3 separate regions of the Homo sapiens genome follow, and regions 2 and 3 are each linked to region 1. Evidence: fine-mapped expression QTL. A gene starts in region 1. Each other region holds a variant in brackets. All regions are shown on one strand. Distances are between the middles of the regions. Region 1 holds the start of NINJ2-AS1 (NINJ2 antisense RNA 1). Region 2 overlaps B4GALNT3 (beta-1,4-N-acetyl-galactosaminyltransferase 3). Region 3 overlaps NINJ2 (ninjurin 2).

Region 1 (8,177 bases):
GCATTTAAAATGTCAGCGTTGGGCAAACATTTTATTTTGTCTTGAACTCATCCCCCCTTAATATCTTGGGTACGACCATTCTCTACATTTTCTCTCTGTGCTACTAAACTTAGAGGATGCAAGTCAGGATTGGGAGGAGACTGATTTTGTGTGTGTTTGGCCTTTACTGCAGAAGAAAAAGAACTGCAACTAGGCCGGGCGCGGTGGCCCATGCCTGTAATCCCAGCACTTTAGGAGGCCGAAGCAGGCGGATCACGAGGTCAGAAGTTCAAGACCATTCTGGCCAACATGGTGAAATTCCGTCTCTACTAAAAATACAAAAAATTAGCCGGCTGTGGTGGTGGGCGCCAGTAATCCCAGCTACTAGGGGGGCTGAGGCAGGAGAATCGTGTGAACCTGGGAGGCGGAGGTTGCAGTGAGCCGAGATCGTGCCATTGTACTCCAGCCCGGGAGACAGTGCAAAAAAAAAAAAAAAAAAAAAAAAAGAACTGCAACTAATCAACATTTATTTAGTGAGCACAACTTATGTGAGGCACTATAACTTACATAAGTTGTGCTGAACTCATGGTGGCTTATAGTCTATTGGGGGAGGTATATATATCAAGGCGTGACTTGGTAATTACTTGGAGAAGGAGAAATGCAAACTGAAGTAGTTGGCCAAATATCCTAAGGTAGGGTCTTTTGGTTTTGTTAAAGAAGAATAAATTCAGATTCAGGAATGAATGTGGAGAAAACTGGGAATGAAACAGGCAGGAATGAGTAAGCTATCTGGGACAGTGCAAAGGCCTTTCTGACCAGATCAGACGGTGTGTGTGGGGGAAAGCACAACTGGATAGGTGGGGTGGGGCCGAATTATGGGGGATTTTTAAATAACCAGGCAAAGGAATGTGTACTTGATTTAGCAGACAGTGGAAAACTCTAAAGTGGTTTGTTTTTTTTACACAATCTCACTCTGTTACCCAGGATAGAGTGCAGTGGGGCAGTCTTGGCTCACTGCAACCTCCACCTCCTGGGTTCAAATGATTCTCCTGCCTCAGCCTCCTGAGTAGCTGGGACTACAGGCATGTGGCACCACGCTCAGCTAATTTTTGTATTTTAGTAGAGACGGGATTTTGCCGTGTTGGCCAGGCTGGTCTTGAACTCCTGGCCTCAAGTGATCTGCCTGCCTCAGCCTCCCAAAGTGCTGGGATTACGGGCATGGGCCACTGGGCCCAGCCTCAGAAGTTTTTAAATGACATGATTTTTTTTTTTTGGAGACAGTCTCTTTCTGTTGCCCAGGCTGGAATGCAGTGGCACCATCTCGGCTCACTGCAGCGTCCACCTCCTGGTGGAACCAGTGATTCGCCTGCCTCAGCAACCCGGGTAGCTGGGATTACAGGCACGTGCCACCATGTCTGGCTAATTTTTGTATTTTTAGTAGAGACAGGGTTTCACCATGTTGGCCAAGTTGGTCTTGAACTGCTGACTTCAGGTGATCCATCCACCTCGGCCTCCCAAAGAGCTAGGATTACAGGTGTGAGCCACCGCGCCCGGCCTTGTTTTTTTTTAATGGAGGAGTGGGGCACAGTTTTAGGGAGGTTGGTTCAGGAAGGGATGCAAGATAGATTAGAGGGCAGGAATTGATTCAGTTCTCAGAGAACTTCCCTGGAAAAGAAAGTCCTAGATCTTTGCCCCAAGCCCAATGCCAGGCTGAGGTATATTTCACGACCTTTCTGATTGAAATCTACTGACAGAAAATACACTGGATCTAAGATCTTGTGAGATCTTGCCCAAGCTCAACCCGGCCCACTAACCTTTTGTGTTCATGGCATGAAATGCCCACACTTGGTTCTGGTTTGGGCTGGCACCCTCCCCGGCTTGCTTCACTGTGGTGCGATGTTTCCAAAGCTTCCACACTCCAGAAAGGGCTATAACTTCAGTTTCCTCATTTTTACAAAAGGTCAAGTTTTCAAAAGCTTAGATCCGCTGGGATTTGTCTATGTTGATGAAGATACATGAAAACTGGGGGACATTGCAGTTGACCTTTAGAACCCTCTCTCCACCCCCACCCCCATCTCCATTACCCCAGAGCTAAGCCTCCTCAGGACCTAGTACTTCTCTTCATTCAGTGTTTTCTCACACTGCTGAAAATTACCTGTGACTCATACAAGTGGTTCAAGCTGCTCAGTCCCAGACAGGAATGTTGAGTCTTGCCAGCTGACATGTTGGGGTCACAAGAAAGAGAGAGCAAGTGTCCTGTGGGCTGGAATCAGGGGAGATGCACAGACACCCTGTGAACATTCCAGAGTGCAGGGCTGAAGAATGGCCTGAATGGAGCCGTTAGGCTGATTTCCCTGTGGTCAGAGGCTAGCTGCAATTTTACCCTCCCTTCCCTGCCCAAACACTCCTGACACTGGAATTTCATCAAACGGCTACCGTGTTTGGTTTTCAACCAGGACAAACAAAGAAAAGAGATTTGTTTTCCTGTCTGCTTTTGCTGAATGGAATCTCTGATTCTACTTACCAGCGTGCCTCAGACACCCTGGGGCTGGTTAGGACTTTAAGCACACAGGAATCTCAGCTTTACTCAATCTTTTTCCATATCCTGAGCCCGAGTTCAGACTTCATCCTCCCGGGTCCCCCATGTCCCTTCAACGTCTGATTAATTCTCCAGTCAACTCCCTGCTAATAGTCCACCCACAAATTGCTATTTCAGCTGACCTTCCCCAAAACTTGAGCATCCTTACCAAATACCTTGGGCTTCCTCATAACCTGGTTATCTTCTCATCTGCATGCCTTTCTGGAATAATTTTGAAGTATTAAAAAAAACTCCTCTAATTGTCAAGGGCATGCAGGAAGCTCAGCCCCTAAGGAGCATTGCAGAAATCTGGAGTTCTACTCTGTTTATACCTAAATCTAGCCTTCCAGGAGTTTCAGATAGTTTCCTGGAAACATTTTGTGCTTTGTGTTTTTCACCTTTCTCTCTTAATTGAATATGGGGTGAGGAGCAAGAAAGGGGATTGTGAATTACAATTACAAACAGTACACACATAACACAGGGACAATCTTTGCATTTCTCATTTCTGATCCCAGGGATCAGAGGTAGAGGCAGGCCAGGCGCGGTGGCTCACGCCTGTAATCCCAGCACTTTGGAGGCCGAGGCAGGCGGATCACGAGGTCAAGAGATAGAAACCATCCTGGCCAACATGGTGAAACCCCGTCTGTACTAAAAATATAAAAATTAGCTGGGCGTGGTGGCGCGCGCCTGTACTCCCAGCTACTCGGGAGGCTGAGGCAGCAGAATCGCTTGAGCCCGGGAGGCGGAGGTTGCATTGAGCAGAGATCACGCCACTGCACTCCCGCCTGGTGACAGAGGGAGACTCCGTCTCAAAATAAATAAATAAATAAATAAAAATTTAACAAAAAAAGGTAGAGGCAGCTCTCAGGTGAGTAAATTCGCAGATGCCCACGCATGTCTGGAACATACCCCAGGGGTCATTAGAGACTGCCCAGCAGAGGCGGGAGGATCTTCCGTTTGCTTTTCCTTCAGAACGTTTGTCCGGAGAGCATCCTGTTCTGTTATATGCATATCCACCTCCGTCTCCAAATTACTAGGTTGAGCACAGTGCTCAGTGCCTGGCATTGAGTTAGAAATAGAAAATGAGCTGGCGAGTCCCGGCCCGAGGCTGTGACAGGGGCCATTACTGAGCCCACTCCCCACCAACCTTTCTGCGGTTTAACTGACTCTCCTCCTTCCCCTCCAGATCCCAAGGGCTTGACTCCTACCTCCTCTAAGGCATTTTGAAAAGTTTGCAAATGCACCCTTGATCCTAGCACGTACTTAAGAAGCGGCTCCCCCCTAGAACGTCAGGCTTGAAGCTGACCCCTTCTTCCTCCTCCCGCGCCATTTGGGTCTGTGCGCAGGGCCGGAAGCCTGCTGGGGAGGGGCACGAGGCCGGGCTGGGGCCTCTCCGGAGGGAGCCCGCCGCCCCGCCCAGGGCGCACGCACCCAGCCTCTGAGGGAGGAAGCTGAATGGGGCCAGAGGCTGGCCCTCTTTGGGGATTTGCATTATACAGGCTGTATTTAGAAGCAGCGGCGGGGAGCGGTGGCTCACGCCTGTGATCCCAGCATTTTGGGGGGCCGAGGCGGGCAGATCACCTGAGGCCAGGAGTTCGAGACCAGCCTGTCAACATGGTGAAACTCCGTCTGTGCTAAAAATACAAAAAAAATTAGCCAGGCGTGGTGGCCGGAGCCTGCAGTCCCAGCTACTCGGGAGGCTGAGGCAGGAGAATCGCTTGAACCCGGGAGATGGAGCTTGCAGTGAGCCGAGATCACACCACTGCACTCCAGCCTGGGCAACTCAGCGAGACTCCGTCTCAAAAAACAAAACAAAACAAAACAAAACAAAAAACCAAGAAAAAGAGAATAAAAAAAAATAGAAGCAGCTTTCTTGCTGATAGAAAGCAATGACCCTCTCTGCTATAATTACAACTGAAGAGTCACTTTCTTTCAAAAACTCTATTTTCAGATGTTTACCACTTTCTTTAAAAAGGAAAAAAAATTTGCCTCAAAGGCAGGCAGTCCCCAGGGCATTTCTGGTCTCCTGGGGAAGGAACCTAAGAGCGGTTTGGTAAAATTCCATTTTGCTATCTTGGCGTTACCTAAGGGCAAGAACTGAGGTGGGGCTTTGGTGACAGCAGGGGCTGAAGAGTGCTCTTTTTCATCATCCAGGGTGTCCAATTGTTTTGTTTCCCTGGGCCACATTGGAAGAATTGTCTTGCCCCACACATAAAATACAGCAACACTAACAATGGCTGATACACTTTTAAAAAATCGCAAAGAAACTTCATATATATATATATATATATATATATTTTTTTTTTTTTTTTGAGTTTTGCTCTTGTCGCCGAGGCTGGAGTGCAACGGCACGATCTCGGCTCACCACAACCTCTGCCTCCCAGGTTCAAGTGATTCTCCTGCCTCAGTCTCCTGAGTAGCTGGGATTACAGGCATGCGCCACCAGGCCTGGTTAATTTTGCATTTTTAGTAGAGACGAGGTTTCTCCATGTTGGTCAGGCTGGTCTCAAACTCCTGACCTCAGGTGATCCACCTGCCTCGGCCTCCCAAAGTGCTGGGATTACAGGCGTGAGCCACCATGCCCAACCAAGAACTCATAATGTTTTAAGACAATTTACGAATTTGTTTTGGGCCGCGTTCAAAGCCGTCCTGGGCTGCACGGGGCCCACAGGCTGTGGGTTGGACAAGCTTGCTGGACTGTCATGAAGTTTTGAGTAGGTTAATTGCGTGGAGAGACCTGGAAGACAGGATCCTGGGTTGTACTGTACTCTCCCCGCCATTGGACCTGTGCTCCCTCCACCCAGGTGGCATCGCAGTGGCCAATGGAGAACAGAGCCAGACTGCCTCGGTGCAAATCCCAGGCTCCTAGTCCTGTGGACCACTTACTCCTTCGGTGAACTTGGGAAGCTGTTCATCCTTCCGGCTTCAGTTTTCCCACATGTAAAATGAAGATAATAATGGCACCTACCTCAGAGGATCATTGTGAGGATTAAATGAATTACCACAATAAGAGGGTATCATTGCCAGAAAGGGGTCCCGATCCAGACCCCAAGAGAGGGTTTTTCGGATCTTGTACAAGAACTCTGGGCTAGTCCATGAAGTAAAGTGAAAGCGAGTTTGCTAGACAAGTAAAGAAACACGAGAATGGCTACTCTATAGGCAAAGCAACCCTGAGGGCTGCTGGTTGGCTATTTTTATGGTTATTTCTTGATCATATGCTAAACAAGGGGTGGGTTATTCATGAGCTTTTTGGGAAGGAGATGGAGATTTTCCCCCTCCCCCAGTTGAGGACTCCTCCTTCTTTTAGACCATATAGGATAATTTCCAGGTGTTGCCATGGCATTTGTAAACTGCCATGGTGCTGGTGGGAGTGTCTCTTAGCATGCTAATGTATAATTGGCATATACTGAGCAGTGAGGACAACCAGTGGTCACTTTCATTGCCATCTTGGTTTTGGTGGGTTTTGGCAGGCTTCCTTACTGCATCCTGCTTTATCAGCAGGGCCTTTGTGACCTGTGTCTTGTGCTGACCTCCTATCTCATCCTGTGACTAAGAATGCCTAACCTCCTGGGAATGCCACCTAGCAGGTCTCAGCCTCATTTTACCAGCCCCTATTCAAGATGGAGTCATTCTGGTTCGAATGCCTCTGCCATAGACACGTATTATATATGCATTACCATGCTTATGTTTTTTGCTTTCCCTGTCTGTAAAATGAGGAAATGCTATTAACTGTTATGTTGGTCACTCTGTACCAGAAAAGCCAGGAAGAGTGTCCACTGTGTGCCAGACCCTTGTAGGTGACGCTGTGAGGAGACGCAGAAGAACGGAAAGACCTGGCTCCTTCCTATGTACTCTGAGATCTCTATGAGGAGGCTTCCCCCTTCCCCTCTAGGAAGACTCCTCATAGAGATCTCAGAGTACATACGAAGGGGAAACATCCACACCCAGTTTTCCCTGGTGGAAAGGTGTGACACAGAGGCCTGCCAGAGGCTCATGGCCCCTTCTCCACCCAGAGCAGCATCTCAGCTCAACCTGGGGATCCAGTAAAGCGGTGCAGGGATCCTGCAGGCTCTGGCAAACTCAGCCTTGACCTTTGGATCCAGCTCTCTGTCCCCATGGCCAGTCTTTTCACTCCCAGGCCTTCTGTCTGGCACAGGGTGTGAAAGAGGAGCCGGGGGCAGGGCGGGGAGGATGCGGCAGGGACAGGGACAGGACAGGAAGGACTTGGCCTAGCTGATTGAGACTTTTTTTTTCTTTTTGAGACGGAGTCTCGCTCTATCGCTCAGGCTGGAGTGCAGTGGCCCAATTTCAGCTCACTGCAACCTCCACTTCCCGGGTTCTCCTGCCTCAGGCACGCAAGTAGCTGGGATTACAGGCATGCACCACTGTGCCCAGGGATTACAGGCATGCGCCACTGTGCCCAGCTCCAGTTGAGATTTTGGCAGGGGTCTCTTGAGCAGCTGATGGGCTCCTGTCACTGCGCCCAAAGTCTGTCCCAGGCGAGTCTGGTTCCACTTAAGCCCAGGTCTGGGCACAGAGGTGCCACCCTTAATGTGTGTGCAGTATGCTGCAGCTGTACCCACGAAGTCTGCCCCTGCCTCTCATGAACACCCAACCCATTCGAGGCTCCAATAATTAGAATTTTCCTTGCTTCACTTTATCCATCTAAATCCTATCGAACTTGTCAAGGGCTACGTCAGTCTCACCTCCTCCATGAAGCCTTCTCTGATTGCCCAGCTGACATCAGTCTTACTGTCCTAAGTTTCCTAGTTCTCTATTTCATTCATTTAGAAATTAGAAAGTAGAAATGTACTTAATTATATTCTCAAAAAATATTTGAGCACCTGTTTGATTGCAAGGCAGGGAGGGTGGCTGTTGGGGCATCCATGAAAATACAGGACAGAATCTTCTAACAAGAAGCTTCAATTCTAAAAGGATGATAAAAATTCTAAAGGCATGGCCTAGAAAATTCCTTATTGCCATATATTGCTTTTCAGGTTGGATGCTATGATTTAATTCAAAAATAATAGTTAACAGTTATTAGGTGCTTGCTATGGGCCATTACTGTATTTAGCACTTTACACAAATTATTCTATTGAATTTTTTTTTGAGATGGGGTCTGGCTCTGTCACCCAGGCCGGTGTTCAGTGGTACAATCATAGCTCACTGCAACCTCGAACTCCTAGGCTCAGACAACCTTTCCGTCTCAGCCTTTTGAGTAGCTGTAACTGCAGGCATGTCTTACCACACCTGCGTACTCTTTTAATTTTTGTAGAGACAGGATCTCACTATGCTGCCCGGGCTGGTCTTGAACTCCTGGGCTCAAGCAATCCTCCCGCCTCAACCTCTCAAAGTGCTGGGATTATAGGCGCAAGCTACAGCACCAAGCTAAGTTATTTTATTTAACTCTTAATAGTACCCCATTTGGTAGATACTATTATTATTATTATTCCTACTTTAGAGATAAGGAAACTAAGGTGCAGAAAGGTTGACTGCCTCGTGTCAGCTAGTGAGAAAGCCAGGATTTGAACCAGGCACCCTGACTCCATTGTTTATACCCTTAACTACAGTGCCATATTTCTTCTGTGTTTCACCTTTTATGTTCAGCTAGAGTGAAACT
Region 2 (8,177 bases), 70 kb after region 1:
GGAATCCTCTCTGAATGCAGCCTGGGACCCAGGTGAGGGAGGATGGAGGAACCCCAGCTCCAGGGACTCCCCAGGTGGCCCTTCTCTCTCCTCTGGGGCTTTGGGGCAAGAAACAGATCCCTTGCCAAACAAAGGGGGAAGGCCTGTAGCTCCGAGAGCAAGGAGAGGATCTGCAAGAGCCTGGCCTCAGCGAGGCTTGCACAAAGCCCCACTGCTGTGTTAATGGCTCTCTGCTCTCAGGCTCAGGTTTTCCCACGGTCTGGGACAGGGTGGAGGCGATGCCATTAGTGGTTGACTCTGCCCCTCCGGCAAGAGGAAAGGTGGAGATGGGGAATTTCTCCCTGCCATTGTCTAGCAGCTCTTGCTACTGACTGTGGTCCATGGGTCAGCAGCATCCACAAACCACCCAGGAACTTGCTGGAAATGCAGAATCTCAGGCTCTGCTCGAGCACGTGCTACAGGCACGTGCATGAGTAACGTGGCCAGGTGCATCCTGGGCATGCTGAAGGTTGAGGGGCATTGATCTGGCCTGCCATCCTCATTGCCTCTTCTCTGCTTCCTCAACAGGTTCTGGGCCTGGAACTTCTGCCTCCTTCCTCCGTGATCTGCCAGGCTCGTGGGCACTTTCCACAGCCCAGGAGAGCTTCTGAAAGGACAGTATAGCTGCCCTTGCTCCCTACCCACAGCACCTGAGTTAAAAAGTGATTTTTATGTTATTGGTCTAAGGGACTTCCATCTTGGTCTGAAGTCCTGAGCTCAGACGCAGGTACTGCCAGCCATACCTTCCTGGTAGCATCTGCTGGACCTAAGTAAGGCATGTCTGTCTAAGGCCAAGTCTGCCCGGCTTAAGGATGCTGGTTCTGACTCTACCCCACTGCTTCCTTCTGCTCCAGGCCTCAATTTTCCCTTCTTGTAAAATGGAATCTATATCTATAAAGGTTTCTTCAAATCCACTCTTGAGTCCACTTACTTGTCTAGTCCTGCAGGCTCAGGCATCCAGGCTGGTCTCCATCTGTGCCTTGGAGAGGGCTCAAGAGAGCAAACCCCAGACCTGGAGGGTGGGAAGGCTTTTAAATTACTTCCTCCTCTGTGGGTTCTGCTCGGAGCCAATGTTCCTGGCCCAGATGTCTTGCGCTTATCGTCATCTGCCCCATGAACTGTAGATTAGTCCATTGCAGGTGGATGCACATATGCACAATCTTCTCCACGAACCTGCTGTAAGCTATTCTGGCTTTCAGTCTCAGCTTCCCTTAGGCATGTGTTTAAGGACTGCAAACTCATTTTGATCTTTGCCTGGGCCAAATATAACGAGGAAGGTAAATCTGTAAAGCATTAGCAAAGCATTGCCAACTCAGAAACAGAAATGATTTTTAGAAGGTCTGCCAGTTTAGAAGCAGCCACTCGTTGGCTTCTCTCCACTGCTCACCAAACCGTTCTGGCCCTATATCTAGCCTTCTCCACCCAGCGTATCCATAGCTTTCCTCGGCTAAAACCACCAACCTCCATTAATCTGCTGAACAGAAAATGCCTAGTCTATTACACGGTGAGCTGCTCAGACAGGAACAATGTTGTCTTCTTCCTGAGTAAACCGCAGTGCAGAGAAGGCCATCTCACACACAGCAGGCATCACACTTGTGGTAAGGGTGGAGGGTGGTGTGGGAGGGTCCTTGGCACGCCCACCTGGGCCCCTCAGCCCAATCCTTTACATCCGTGAAGAGCAACAGGAAAAGACAAGCACCTTTTTTTTTTTCTAAGAAGTTGCTGTATTTAATGCTTCCCCTCCCACCATCCCACACCCTCTCCTACCCAAGACATTTCTCTAGGGAGTAGGGGCCTTGCCCGGCCCTTCCTCTTAAGGCAGATGGTGTGGAGGTAACATCAAACGCAAGGCACTGGCCCAGGGCGCAGGGGTGTGGGCAGGGCAGGAGGCTGGGCTGGCTCCTAGTCATTGGAAGTGAAGCAGGTGGGCAGTTTGGGCTGGTTCCAGCCTTCCAGTGCAATGCCCGAGGACGAGAGTGGTCCCAGAAAGAAACTGGCAGCCCCACTGGCCAACTGCAGCCCTAGCCTATGCCCCACCATCCTTCTCCAGGGGCCAGTCGGCCTCAGCAGGGACCAGAAAAAGCCACAGCCCAGGGAGCAGGTATGGCCTTCCTAAGCCACAATCTCAAAAGTCTCTGTCCTTCATGATTCCTTAAAGGGAGGCAGGGATTCTCCCCGACCCCCCAGAAGGTTCTCCACGGGCTCCATTCTCCCATGTGCCAAACTCGTGCTCTCGGGGAATGCAGAGCCCACTAGGCAGACCCTGCAGCTCCAGTGCCGTGGTTTGGACCGTCACAGCCTGGAGCGCGGGCTCAGTGGCCTGGTCTTCTGGGCCCCGCCGCACCTCCCCCAGCCCTGTGCTCACCTCCCTAAACAGACTCTGGAGTTCAAGATCCAGTGTCCAATGCACCATGGGTGAATTCACAGCAGTGGTGGAGGCAGCAGCAGCAACAGAAAAACCCCCAGCCACAAAAGCACCGGGGTTATTAGTGCAAGAGAAGTACAAGGTCTCCAGGTGACAGAAAGGGTGGCATCGACTAAAAAGGCTAAGGGCTATTTTCCCTGAAACTGCCCCCCTCTTCAGTTCCTCCTGCCCCCACTCCTCTCCCTGCCTCCAGGGGATATCTCAGGGCAATGTCCTCACCTCCCCAAACCTCTCATCCCGCCCCCTTCTTATCCTGCTCCCTGTCCAGGGTTTTGCCCCCGTACACCCTTTCCTCTTCTTCCACTCAAGGCCGGGTGGCCAGGGCTCTCCCTGCAGAAGGGCAGGTCTGCAGTGGAGCTGGACTGTGAGGCTCACAGCTTCCACTTCCCTTTTCGTCCCTTTCTGTCCAGCCCCCACCCGCTTCTTGCCTAAGGAAATTGACAGATATGTCCACATCCTCTTTACCTCTTCTCCATGTCCTCTCGGGAGGCCTTACCCACAGGCACGCCGGTAAGGGAAAGGGCTTCTCTCCCCTGCCTTCATCACCCTGCCTGTTCTGCAGGCCTCAATGTCCAGTGCCAGGGAGTGGCAAGCCCCCTGCCCGCCAGCTCCCCACCTCCCAATGCCCAAGCACCAGAAACAGCCCGTTCTGTGCTTCTGGTCTGACGTGAGCCATCCGGAGGAAGTTAATGCCCTAATCAGTGGCCAGCTGTTTGGTGGCTACTGGGAGATGTGTGTCTCTGGAAGGCACGAGCCTGGGGTGGAGCAGAGACCTGCCCCACGTGGGACCAGTCCCGCGGCCAGGGACAACGCCCAAGGGACATAGGAGTGGGCGGGAGGCCTGCACGTGGGGACAGTCCCTCAGTGCACAACCTCACCCCCGCTCTGGACAGCAGTTTCGGTTTTCTGTTTTTAAAATCCCCGCCCCCCAATAAAATATGTCCACTAGAAGAGGGTCTGGTGGTCAGCGCTTGGCGTGAGGAGCGCTTGGGGGATGTGGGCGTGCACCTTCATGGATGAGGATGGTGTCGCTCAGTCAGATCTCTCCTTCCTGACCCGTCCTTCTCAGGAGCTCTTCCCGTTCTCGACTGAGCAAGTGGTCCCTCCTGGCCTCTCTCTCAAAGTCCTCCCTTCTGAAGGCCCAGGAGGCAGAGACAGGAGCCCCGGAACCTGCCTCTGTGAGGGGACAGCTCCAGGTGGAGTGGGCCGTCAGCTTCGAGGCCTCTTGGGGTCCAGCCGTCACCCCACTCCCCATCCCTGAACAGTAGCAGGGCCCTGG[G/A]GAGCCACTGCTAGTCCAGAGCGGGGAGTGCTGGGCCCCGCGGACACCCTCCGGCTACAGCGTCTTCATCTGGCGACGGCTCCACATGCCTCGCTTGGAATGGAAATGATGGAAGAAATTCCTGAGGGAGAGACGCTCCACGTCCAGGCCCGCTTGGAGTATCCTGGAGGAGGAGAAACACAGATGAGCCAACAGAAGCACAGAAGGCAGCTGGGGGGCCCCTCCCCATCGACCACAGACCCTCTGTTCGCTCCCCACGGGGCAGGGAAGGCAGGTGCAGTGGACGGCTGTGGGCTTTGAAGCCAGGCAGCCTGGGTTTGGATCCCAGCTGCATGACTGGGTATGTCACGCCTTCTTTCAGAGCCTGTCTGCTCATCTCTAGGAGGACGATTATCACATACGTGTAATGAGAGGATAATGTGTGATATAGAATTCTATCTATCTAATATTAGAGTAGACATACTATATACACATCAGAGGTGGGGAAGACGAGAAGGATGGATGCTGAGGGCTCAGCACGGCTCCTGGCACACTCTGAGTGCCCCATAACTGGCGCCCAGCCTCCAGGGCACACGTCATAGACGGAGGAAGGCAGGGCTGCTGCACTGAGACACCTGGCGCCTAGGCCCTCCCCAGGCCTTTTGTGCATGTGCAGCCTGCAGGGTGTCCCTCTCACAGGGAGGCTGCACTTCTGGCAGGGCTGAGAGTGGCCGAACTGGATGCCTGAGCCTCCGAGGAGGCAGGAGGTTCAGGGCTGTACAGGAGCCGTGCATGGCAGCAAAAGCCCAGCACAGAGATCAAGGTGGAGGTGACTGCTGGACCCGGCTTCCCAAATCAAGGCTTCCAGCTGCCCTGGGGGCTCCTTTGATCTCAGACCCTTTTTATGAGCTCCCAGTTATCTACGTTCCTTTACCTTCCCCCTTTTCACTCGAATTCTCTTAGTGTGTCACCTTCCTTTTCTTTCTTCCCTCAACGGGAAAAAACACCAATAGACCTAGTTTTCAAGCCTCTAACGCTTAAGTGAGTGAGATTTGGGGCAAGTTATTAACTTCTCTTCAAGACTCAGTCTTCTCATCTGGAAAATGGAGATCATGATGCCGACCTCACTGAGGTCTGGGGAGAAATAAACGAGGTAACGGATGTGGATGGCCGGCCATGTATAGGGACCCAGTGACTGGTGGATGCATTTTGTCCTGCCTCTCGGGAAGAAGTGAGCGTGTCTTCGTGTCGAGGTCCCGCCCCCAGTGCTCCTGACCTTGCCCTGTCCACCTCCTGTGGACGCTGTTACAGCGCTTATGCCCTTCTGAAGGGTACCCTCCCCTCTCCTTTGCTCCCTCACCATAGGCTCAGATCTCAAGGCACCATCCTCTCTCTGCCCCTTCTCTTGGCAGCACATTTCTTGAAAGAGGAACCTCACACGGAACAGCCTCCGCCTCCTCACCACCCATGGCCTGGTGTCCCTGCCCAATCTTGCTCTCCTTGTCCACCTGCCAAGGCAGCAGCTTGTACTGTGTTCTTCTCTGAGGCTTTTCATCTCATTGACCCTTTCCTCCTGCTCCAAACCCCCAGGTCCCTTGGTGTCTCATGACCCGGCACCTCCTGGATGTCCTCTTGCCCTTCAGTGGTCTACACTGTCTCTTCTGCTGGCCCCAAAGTCTTTCCTGACCTTTGCCAGGTCTACTTATCCATTCCCACAACTCTGGGCTCCCCGCTCGGCAGCTGACGGGAGGCGCACTACCCTCGGGCTGGGGAGGATGCAGTCTCTCCCACGGTGCCCTGCTTGGTGCTGAGAACATCATGGTTTATGTCTACACAGCTTGGTGTACCTGGTACACGGTGTACCAGGCATGTTAATTTTCACACCAACCCTGTGACACAGACAGAGGGCGAGTCACACCCCTCTAATAGAGAAACTGAGTCCCAGCGAGGCCGGTGATTTGAGGGCGTCCTCCGAGTCCAGTGCTCTTTACTGTGCTTTGGGACTCTGCGGCCGAGGGGGACAGCTAGGCTGCTGTAGCCTGGCTCCCTGCCTGGAGCGCCATGGAATTCCCAGGCCTCGTGGATGCCCTCCTCTTCCCAGTCACCTGTCCAGCAGCTCCCAGTCTTCCCCGCCCCAGCGGTCTCGGAACTCCTTGGTGTTCATGCCCCCAATCCTGTCCAGGTCAGACTTGTAGATGCCAAGCAGCCCGAACCCATTCACCTCCCAGTAGCCTGTGGACAGACAGGAGCTTCGGGTGAGATGAGCCAGAGGCCAGGAGGAGGAAGGAAGGAGGCTTCCAGGCTGTGTGCCTAGAGGCTCTTCTGAAAGTCAGAGGCTGGGGTTGAGGGAGGCTGAAAACTGTCTTAGCTGAACAAGTACTTTGCCTGTTTTGGAGGAAAGACCCCTAACTAAGGTTCAGGGCTCAGCAGTGCTACCAGGCTGTGCCCATGGGCTGATAACAACCCTACAAATGGATCGGACAGCGGCAGCCACAGAAGACACAGCTGTGTGTCAGTTTACATGTCCGTTTCCCTTTCCACAGGCAGGGAGGCTACCTTTCCCATCTTTGAATCCCCACAGGGCAGAGCATCTGGCACACAGCAGTGCTTAGTAAGTGTGTGATGAATGAATCAAGGAGAAGACGGCGCAGGAGGTGTGCACTGCTGCACCTGCTGCTGTGGCTGTCAGCTCAGCCCAAGGGGACCTTGTCTGGTGAGTTTTCCGGGGAGTGAAGGCCACAGGAGGGCAGGGTGGGGCAGGGGAGGAGGATGCTGACGCTCATAGATATGACTGTTCCCAGCTCTGGAGTTAAGAGCCAAGATCAGAGAAGTCTTTCCTCCCTCCCCAGTCTGAGCAGGGCTCACCCTCAGGCCACTGGGGGGTGGCCCCACAATGCAGCCTCATCACCATGGGGGCAAAGGCCATCTTTCCCTCCACACAGTGCTTCCGAATGGCATCGATGACTCCAGCTGGGAAGTGGATGTGGAGGTCACAGAGGAAGATGATGCTGTGCGGGTCCTGGGGACAGATGTGGGCAGGGTCAGCAGACCCTGCAGACCAGAGCTAGGAGGTCAGGTCGCCGTCTAGGAGAAGCCTCGGAGTCTTCCCTATTGGAGTGATTCACAAACTCCCACAAAACCAGCTGCTGGGCAGAGTTCCACAGTGCTGAACATTGGAGCACAGGTCTTAACCATCAGAGTGAATTCTGACTCCTCCCCACTCTTTATAGGCTCCAAGGACCCTGGACAACTGGGCAAATGCTCCACTGTGATTTGCTGGTCCCACCCTAGCACTGGCCTGCAGCACAGCAGAGAGGACCTCCTGTGTCCTCATTCCCGTCCTCCCTGAGGGGCTCACCACCTCATTTACCCCAAATGTCTCTCTACCTCTTAACCAGCCTTGAATTCCATCTCGCAGGCCCCATCCAGGCCCTTTACCTTCACGAGGTCTATGCCAGCCTGAAGTCCAGCTGAGCGTTCAAAGTTTCCACTTAGCTTCACGTACTGGTAGCTGCAGGAAGGGGAGAGAGGGCTGCGTATCAGGACTCAGCTGCGGTGGTCCCCTGGAGGAAGTTGGCAGGCATAGAAGAGAGATGATGTGTGCTCCTGGGATGGGATTATGGGCAGGTGAGCCCTCTGGGAAAAGTTGGAGACTAGGAATCAGGAAGGCTGGGCAGGACTCCTGGCTCTACCCTGGACCCAGCAGCCCTAGGACTTTAGGATGGACGTGGCCCATGCCACCCCCTGGCTGGTGGTCCCCCTCACCTCCGCAGCTTGGACCTCTTCAGTGCCATCTCAACATCCATGTCCTCACTGCTATAGTCAGTGATGACGATGTTGAAGTGTGGGTCACCGGTGACCTGGAACAGGTTTTCCATGTCTTTGATGAATTGCTGTACCCAGCGTGCCTGGTTCTTCACTACCCCAGGGGGTCAGGCAGGAGAAGGAAACACAGACAAGGCAAAGATGAGCGGATGAGCGCCTCCACCCCCAGCTCCCAGGTGAGTCAGGAGTGCCCATCGGACCTCGGCTGAGGGGACAGTGCAACTCTGCAAAACCATTAGCAGTGCAGCACAGAGACATGAGGCAGAGGGAGTGCTCACCAGTTAAGGGGGCCTCTGCATCCTGCTCCCCACGTTCCCTCCTCCCAGGCAGGGGACCCACGAGAAGGCCTTGGCTGGGGCTCATTGTCAGTAGCCCTGCCACGCTCTACTAGTGAAACCCTGTTATCTGTCCCTCTTAGTATCGTCGTCCTATCCCCATCATCCTACCTCTGTTGTTACACTTCTGCCTGTTGTGTGTTCCTCCTTCTCATATAAAACCCTGCTCATCACTTCATTAAGTACGCTGCCCGTCTTACTTCCCCAGACCAATGATCATCCCCAGTGTTAGCAACCCCAGTTATCACACCCAATCCTGAAACCTAGTACGAAAGAAAGAGCACTGGCCTATGAG
Region 3 (8,177 bases), 39 kb after region 1:
ATGACATAACAATAACCTAGGATGGAAATCCTGTGTCATCCTATCCTATGTTACGTTACATCATCTAGATTTCCTCCTATGCTACTGTCCAGGAGTTTTATAGTTTTGTGTTTTACATGCAGATCTATGATCCATTTTGAGTTAACTTTTGCGAAGCGTGTAGGTCTGTGTCTAGATTCTTTTTTTTTTCTTTTTGCATGTGGATGTCCAGTTATTACAGCACAATTAGTTGAAAAGAGTATCTTTGCTACATTGTATTATCTGTGCTCCTTTGTCAAAGATCAGTTGACTCTATTTATGTGGGTCTATTTCTGGACTCTATATTCTGTTCCATTGATCTACTTGTCTATCCTTTTGATAATATCACACTGTGTTGATTACTGTAGCTTTGTATTAAATAAGTCTTGAAGTCGGGTGGTGTCAGTCCTCTGACTTTATTTTTTTCCTTTAATATTGAGTTGGCTATTCTACATCTTTTGCCTCTCTATGTAAACTTTAGAATCGGTTTGTTGATATCTACAAAATAACTTGCTGGGATTTTGATTGGGATTGCATTGAATCTATAGATCAAGTTAGGAAGAACCGATGTCTTGACAAATATTGAGTCTTTCTATTCATGAACATAGAATAGCTCTCTATTTATTCAGTTGTTTTGTTTCTTCCTTTTCTTCCTTTTTTTTGTTTTGTTTTTGTTTTTTAAAAAAAATTGAGATGGGATCTTGCTATATTGCCCAGGGTGGTTGTGAACTCCCGGACTCAAGTGATTCACCCACCTTCGCCTCCCAAAGTGTTGGAATTACAGTCATGAGCCACAGCACCTGGCCCAGTTCTTTGGTTTCTTTCATCAGAGTTTTGTAGTTTTCCTCACATAGATCTTGTAATTATTTTGTTAGATTTATATGTAAGTAGTTCATTTTTATTGATACATAATATCTGTACATATTTATGGAGTACATGAGTAGTTGATTTTTTGAGGACTAATGTAATGGCATTGTGTATTTAATTTCAGATTCCACTTATTCATTGATGATCTATAGGAAAACAATGGACTTTTTTATATTAACCTTGTATCCTGCAACCTTGTAATACTTGCTTATTAGTTCCAGGGATTTTCTTTATTATTTTCGATTTTCTTTATTATTTTCAATTTTCTACATAGACAATCTTGTCATCTGTGAACAAAGGCAATCTTGTTTCTTTCTTCCCAATCTGTATACATTTTTTTCTCATCTTATTGCGTTAGCCTGGAGTTCCAGTATGATGTTGAAAGGGAGTGGTGAGAGGGGATGTCTTGCCTTGTTCCCTGTCTTCGTGGAAAAGCTCTTAGTTTTTTACCATTAAGTGTGATGTTAGCCACAGGTTTTTTGTAGATATTCTTTATCAAGTTGAGGAAGTTTCCCTCTATCATTTCTTTTTTACTTTTATTTAAGCTATTTGTAATTTATTTGATAAATAATTTGCCCCCTTCCCTGATAAGTTGGTGATGCTGCTGCTGTTGCTGCTGCTGCTTCTTCTTCTTCTTTTCTTTCTTCCTCTTATTCTTCCACTTCCTCCTCCTCTTCCTCCTTCTCCTCATCCTCTTCCTCCTCCTCCTTCTGCTCCTCCTCCTCCTTTTTGAGACAGGGTCTCACTCTGTCATCCAGGCTGGAGGCAGTGGCACACTCACGGTTCACTGCAGCCTCAACCTCCTGGGCTCAAGCGCTCCTCCCACCTCAGCCTCTTGAGTAGCTGGAACTACAGGCCTGCACCACCACGCCTGGCTAATTTTATTTTTTGTAGAGACAGGGTTTTGCCCTGTTGCCCAGGCTAGTCTCAACCTCCTGGGCTTAAGTGATCCTCCTACCTCAGCGTCCCACAGTGCTGGGAAGCTGTGATGAAGATGGGAGCTTCATCTACTGATATCCTTGTAACTCACAAATTTCTGATGAAGCTGGGAGCTTCATCACAGGCATGAGCCACTGCGCCCTGCCTGTGATGCTTCTTTAACAATCGCTAGGTTTTCAGATCTGTTTCAAAGTTGACTGAGTAGTAAATGTTGATGTATTGCAGGGAAATTCTTGCCTTCTTATTCTTTTCTTCCCCTAAGAGTTCTTAGTAATTGTGCTTTAATACTTTACCAAATGAACAATGTAGTCATTACACCCAGTTAGTATTGCAGTGAACCTAATAAATTGAGAATGGTTCCTATATTTAACATAGATTTCTGGATTTTTTCCATTAAAAAATCTTCTTTCCTACTATATTTATAACATCTGTATCCACTCTACTTTTGTCTGTTCATTTTTTTTCCCTGTTTTTTTCTTGATTGCATTTTTAGGGAAAGGATTTATTTTACTTTTCTTTAAAAAAATCCATTCCATAGTTTCATTTACTCAATCTACTGATAGCCTTGTAACTCACAAATTTCTGTAATTATCTTAATTTTGTTCTTCCTTGCTGTTTTCCTAAGGTGTGTTTTATTGTCTTTTCATAACTTTTCTGAGATGAATTTCAGTTGGCTTATTTTCACTAATTTTTATAATGACAGTATTTATCCCTGAACAGAGCTTGGACTTGGACTACATTCCTTAGTATGTTCTGCTTCTTACAACTAACCAAATAATTTGTAATTGATTTTTTTTTAAATTTTGAGATGGAGTTTTTCTTTTGGTGCCCAGGCTGGAGGGCAATGGCACAATCTTGGCTCACTGCAACCTCCACCTCCTGGGTTCAAGCGATTCTCCTGCCTCAGCCTCCCAAGTAGCTGGGATTACAGGCATGCGCCACCTCGCCCGGCTAATTTTGTATTTTCAGTAAAGACGGGGTTTCACCACGTTGGCCAGGCTGGTCTTGAACTCCTAACCTCAAGTGATCCGCCAGCCTCGACTTCCCAAAGTGCTGGGATTACAGGAGTGAGCCACCGCTCCTGGCCAGAGAAGCTAGTTATTCTGTTTCTTCGTAATCTGTGTCTAATATCTTTCTCCATTTGTTCAACACCTGTTTGTTGGATATTCACAAGAATGTACCGTGACGGGTCCACTCTGAATCCCTCCGGCAATGACGATGACTCCCTCATGTTATCTAGGAGACACCTAACTGTTTTATGTGTGCCCTACTGTTGTCGCAGCAGCCCAGTGAGGTAGGGACTATCTTTTATCCCATTTTGCACTTGGGGACACTATGGCTCAGACAACTTAGCTTGTTCAAGGTCACCTAGCAGCAGGCAGTAAAGCCAGACTTGACCCCATTCTGGCTTCAAAGTTCCTATTTTTCATCTGTCACAGATTAATGGTAAGTTCACCGAGAATGCAAACAAGATATGCGTTTGGCTACAGCCTGGCGGCTGGGGCTCCAGGCCTTCAGGCTAAAGGAGCAGTTGGAAGGATGAGCAGAGCAGGAGGGGCAAAGGGAGTGACCCGGGAAAAACGCCTGGGGGCCTCTGTTTGCTCAAAATTGACTAGTTAAGTCACACACCATACCTGCCGCCGGCCACGTCACTCTTTCAGAAGGCTTTCCTGTTCTAATGAGGCCCAGAACCTGAGAAATATCTCTAAAGAAACACCCTTGGCCCTTGCAGCCAGCTCCCACAAAGTCTGGCAGCACCCCCAGCCCAGCTGCACGATAAGATAAGACGTGCCCAAGGGACCTGGGGCGAGAAGCCAGACTGGTGACACTGCACTGCTCCCTCCGTGACATCTGTTCACAGCAGACACTGTCCCTCCAGGGACTCGGAGCTCAGCCAAAAGGCCCCTGCTTTTAAGACCAGCTCTATGGAACTCCGCTAGCACTGCCCATCCAGAGAGCTTCTGCAATCAGAGTTGCCCCCAACCCTCTGACCAACCTAGTAGGTGAATCAGCACTCAGTCCTGGGCAGCAGGTCTTAGTAGTCATGACTAGCAGAAAGGACCTTGCATCAGGAGAGCGCACAGCCCCAGGTTGTTGACGTGTGTGCAGCTGGGCATGAGTGACAGGGCTATTTCTGCCCACCAAAGTGCTCTCAGCAAGCAGGAGGTGAAGGGAGATGCTGCCGGGAATTGTAAGATCTAGGCATGGCACCCGCTGCTTGAACCCTGCTAAGGACTGGGGCCCCAACACCCTGCAGTACCTAAACTGCCCTGATGGTTGGTTCACACAGACCACATGATGGTGAGAGGCCCTCACAGCACTGAATCCAGAAACAGGAGCCAGAGAACCTAGGGACTGTCATACCATTTTGAAAAGAGGCACCACTCTCGCTGAACTTCTTTTCTCTGCCACCTCCCTATAACCTTGATAGT[G/A]AGTGCTAGTGTCCTGGATTCTGATCAGCTGTAAGCATCAGCCTCCCTATAACCTTGATAGTAAGTGCTAGTGTCCTGGGTTCTGATCAGCTGTAAGCATCAGCCTCCCAGTAACCTTGATAGTAAGTGCTAGTGTCCTGGGTTCTGATCAGCTGTAAGCATCAGCCTCCCTATAACCTTGATAGTAAGTGCTAGTGTCCTGGGTTCTGATCAGCTGTAAGCATCAGCCTCCCAGTAACCTTGATAGTAAGTGCTAGTGTCCTGGGTTCTGATCAGCTGTAAGCATCAGCCTCCCTATAACCTTGATAGTAAGTGCTAGTGTCCTGGGTTCTGATCAGCTGTAAGCATCAGCCTCCCTATAACCTTGATAGTAAGTGCTAGTGTCCTGGGTTCTGATCAGCTGTAAGCATCAGCCACAAAGGACTATGCCCTTGACAGGCTTCCAGGCGCCCTGGGCAGTGGCTGGGCGGACTGCTGTAATCCCACCAGGCAGCTGCATCTGTGCAGGTTCCCGCAGGTGCCCCTTTCACACAAGAGCCACGTTCCTGGAAAGTTGTTCATCAACTGAGTCCTATTGGGGCTGCAACGCTGAGGGTGCGTTTTTAGACTATGAAGGCACAAAGTTGCCACCCAGCCAGAGGCACAGGGTGTCGTCTTCCACCCCTCCCTTTCCCCACCCTCAGCATCCAATCGCTCACCCAGTCCTGCCAGTTCTGTTTCCTCACCCTCTCTTGGGGCAGTCCCATTTTTATACCCACTGCCAATGCTGTGCTGCAGACCTCCAGCAGGGCTCCCGCGCGTGGCTCTCCGCTCCAGCCCATCCTTCGAGCCGCTTCCATCATGGTCCTGCTAAAATGCTGCTACAGCACATTGGGAGGCTGAGGCAGGAGGACCACTTGTTTGGGACCAGGATTCCAGACCAGCCTGTGCAATATAGCAAGACACCGTCTCTACAGAAAATAACGAAAATAAAAAATAAGACGCTGCTCTAAGGATGCCACTGGCTGCGGATAACCTTCCTACTGCTCCCTGCTGCCCTCAGGACAAAGCCTAAGTGCCTCATCAGCCCCTCCCTGATCCGCTGCCCCACACCGCTCCACCTCTGCCTTCCACCTGTACCCTAGGACCCCTTGGGTCCTGACAGGGAGACCCCGCCCTCTCTGAGACGGCTGCCACAGCAGCCCATCTGCCTCACCCCACGGAGGAAAACTGAGTCCAGGAGACAATCCCCCCCTAAATTTACCAACTGTTTCCCCCCTTCCAGAAGTTTCTTGAGAGCAGGAGCCATATGGATTCGTCTCTGCATGCCCAGCCTGAGACATCAGTGCCTAGGACTCAGGAGGCATACCCAGCACATGCTTGTAGAAGAAAGAAAGAAACAGGGAAGGTGTTTTTTGCTATTTATCGCATATTTAATTTCATCTTTATTATATTTTTCCTGATTGTAACAGGATGATGTCTTAGGTGTGAAAAATTAGAAGTGGAAGTGTTAGAGCTCTTCTAGAATTTGTCTAGCAGGTTCTCTGGTTTTTACTGAAACCAAACTCCCATGAGAAAACAACCTACAATTGGGAAAATACATAACTTAGAAAGAAAGGGAAAGTCTTTAGTGTGATAGAAATTCCTCCCATATCTGTTTCCTGTGCTTATTCTAATGCATTGAAATATAAAGTAGATCCTCTGAATACTTTGTTTCATTTTTACCAATATAGAATCATATCATGTTCTTACTGACTTGCTCCCCACTAAATACATTTTAGATATCTTCTGTATCTAATCATAGGGATCTACCTCATTCTTTTTGTTTTGTTTCATTTTGTCCATTGTTTTTTACTGATTGAACAAGAACACCTCTCTCTTTTCAAAGACACATGTAGTATTTAATTGTGTGGTTGTAGGCCAGCTTATTTAGCCCACACACCCTTGATTACAATTTGGCTCATTCCCAGTTTTTGACATTATCAATAATGATGCATGGAATAGCTTGTCTTTTTGAGCTTTGGGGAGCATTTTCTGTGGGAGACTTATTCTGTGGGAGACTCCTAGAAGTGGACTTACTAGGTAAGACTATTTTAAATTTTAATAGATAATTGTCAGATTGTCCTCCAAAAAAAAATGATTGTAACAATTCTGGTACGTTTGGTAGTAATTTACATTTCTACCAAGGACGTGAAAGTGCTTGCTTAGCCATGTCTTCACCAACACTGAGTATTATCAGTCTCTTAAGTCTTCGCCAATCATGTAGGCTATCATATCTATTACACAGATTTGTGATGTTTCTTCAGGGGCTTGCTTGTTTGTACTCAGTTTTTCTGTTGGCTCATTTTTAAGGCCTCCACAGACTTCAGGATAATCAGTCCTTTGTGCTCTGTGCAGCAGTGTTCCCCCCGTTTCTCTTTGTCTCCTGATTTTGTGTGGTGTGTGGTGGTCGAGGAAATGGCTGGAGCACACACTCTGAAGGCAGGCTACTGGGTTTTGTCTGTAACTTACTGGCTGAATGACCATAGTTTAGTTACTTAACCTCAGAGTCCCTTAGATAAGGACAGTACTTATCCCAGGGATTGTTATGAGAATGACACGACTTCAGATATATAAAGTGTTCTGTGCAGGGTTTGACATGAAATGAGCGCTATAAGTGTATATGCTATTATTATTTTGCATTCAAATAATTTTAATTTTATGCAGTCAAATGTATTAATCCTTTATGGCTTCCGGATTTGATGTCATAGTTATAAAGGTTTTCCTCATTCTAAGATTAGAAAGAGATTCACAAAGGGGACTATTTGAAGGAGTCTGCGGGGAGTCCATTTGCAAGATGTCTCCTCCTCCCTTCCCTCCCTTCTGTCCCTTCCGTCCCCTCCGTCCCTTCCGTCCCCTCCGTCCCTTCCGTCCCTTCCGTCCCTTCCGTCCCTTCCCTTCCTTCCGCCATTTTGCTGTCTTGTAAATTGATTTGGCTTTTCACATAGTGGGAATTTTTTTCAAGGGGAAACCTATCTGTGTTTACATAGTGGAAGGATGATACACTGGTCTGGGGACTATGTTGGCTGTCGTGTCATGCCTAAAGTGTAGGCCTGTGTAGGTCGTCCCCTCCCTTCATGGATAAAACAACTACTAGTTATCAGTAAGTGCCAGCCTCATACTACGGCTCCTACCCTGAAGGAGTTCACCGTCCAGTGAGAGAACGGATAGTGATCAGGTGAGAGGTGTCACCAAGGCCCTGTGGTGGAAATAACCAGCTTAATGGAAGGAAGAGCTTCCTGGGTGGACGGCGAGGAAGGGCCCAGAGGGCATTTCAAACACGGGGGATGGGGTGTTCAATCTGCTCTACAGATCCTGGTGACCTGCCTGTGAGGCGCAGGGTCCCTGGCCACCCCCACCCCCCACCTGCACAGAGGCCCCGGGGCAGGGAAGAATGGCTCAGCGCTGGGCAGGGTGAGATGGAGAGTGGTCAGAGGCCAGACCACAAGCATCGGGCCAAGACTAGGAAAGCCCAGCTCCCCTCCCAGCTGTAGAACTTCACTGGTCAGAGAGCCTGAGGAGCCCTAAGAAAGGGACTTCAGTCCTCTGGGGCTCCCTTTGCGTGTCCTTACAATGCAGCCTCAGCTTCTGTCCTTAGGCAGCTGTGCAAATTCTGTAAGATGGTGCATGTGCAGACATTCTGTCCTGCACAATAAAAGTGGACACCTTTGGGGCACTTCCTGCCGCCGCTTGACCGGGAGTTGCTCCCGCCATGGGGGCTGTGCTGTGGGTTCAGCCTGTCTGCATTGCCAGGGGTTCCTGGGCCTGCTTCCTGTGGAGGGGCAGCTTCACCCTGGATGCAGACCTCCCCGTTTGCAGCCCGTCCTGGTGAGCTGACTCTTGCCTCCTGGTCCCCTAGTCTTTTTGTTGACCCAGATCAGGACTCTAGTCCAATACTATTGA

The links. PIP is the estimated chance that this variant, and not a neighbour inherited with it, causes the effect.
Region 2: its variant is fine-mapped to the expression of NINJ2-AS1 in Th17 cells (Schmiedel 2018, PIP 0.95).
Region 3: its variant is fine-mapped to the expression of NINJ2-AS1 in whole blood (INTERVAL, PIP 0.98).

What each region holds. Positions count from the first base shown.
Region 1 is chr12:626,574-634,750 of GRCh38, reverse strand. NINJ2-AS1 (NINJ2 antisense RNA 1) reads right to left here and starts at 3,860. Exons shown (of 5, transcript NR_122124.1): 1 at 3,766-3,860; 2 at 2,504-2,537; 3 at 2,135-2,242. All of the region lies in intron 1 of NINJ2 (ninjurin 2), which reads left to right. RefSeq lists silencers at 3,835-3,934, 3,995-4,074.
Region 2 is chr12:557,072-565,248 of GRCh38, reverse strand. B4GALNT3 (beta-1,4-N-acetyl-galactosaminyltransferase 3) reads right to left here. Exons shown (of 20, transcript NM_173593.4): 16 at 7,488-7,641; 17 at 7,161-7,233; 18 at 6,588-6,741; 19 at 5,828-5,954; 20 at 1,740-3,906. The coding sequence ends at 3,798. NINJ2 (ninjurin 2) reads left to right here. Exons shown (of 4, transcript NM_016533.6): 3 at 1-32; 4 at 568-953. The coding sequence ends at 14. Among named protein-coding and RNA genes, the nearest start is that of NINJ2-AS1, 70 kb to the left of the region's middle. RefSeq lists an enhancer at 1,999-2,500. The variant G/A (reference allele first, on the strand shown) is at 3,744.
Region 3 is chr12:587,153-595,329 of GRCh38, reverse strand. The region is part of intron 1 of NINJ2 (ninjurin 2); the gene reads left to right. It also overlaps the pseudogene RNU7-103P. Among named protein-coding and RNA genes, the nearest start is that of NINJ2-AS1, 40 kb to the left of the region's middle. The variant G/A (reference allele first, on the strand shown) is at 4,257.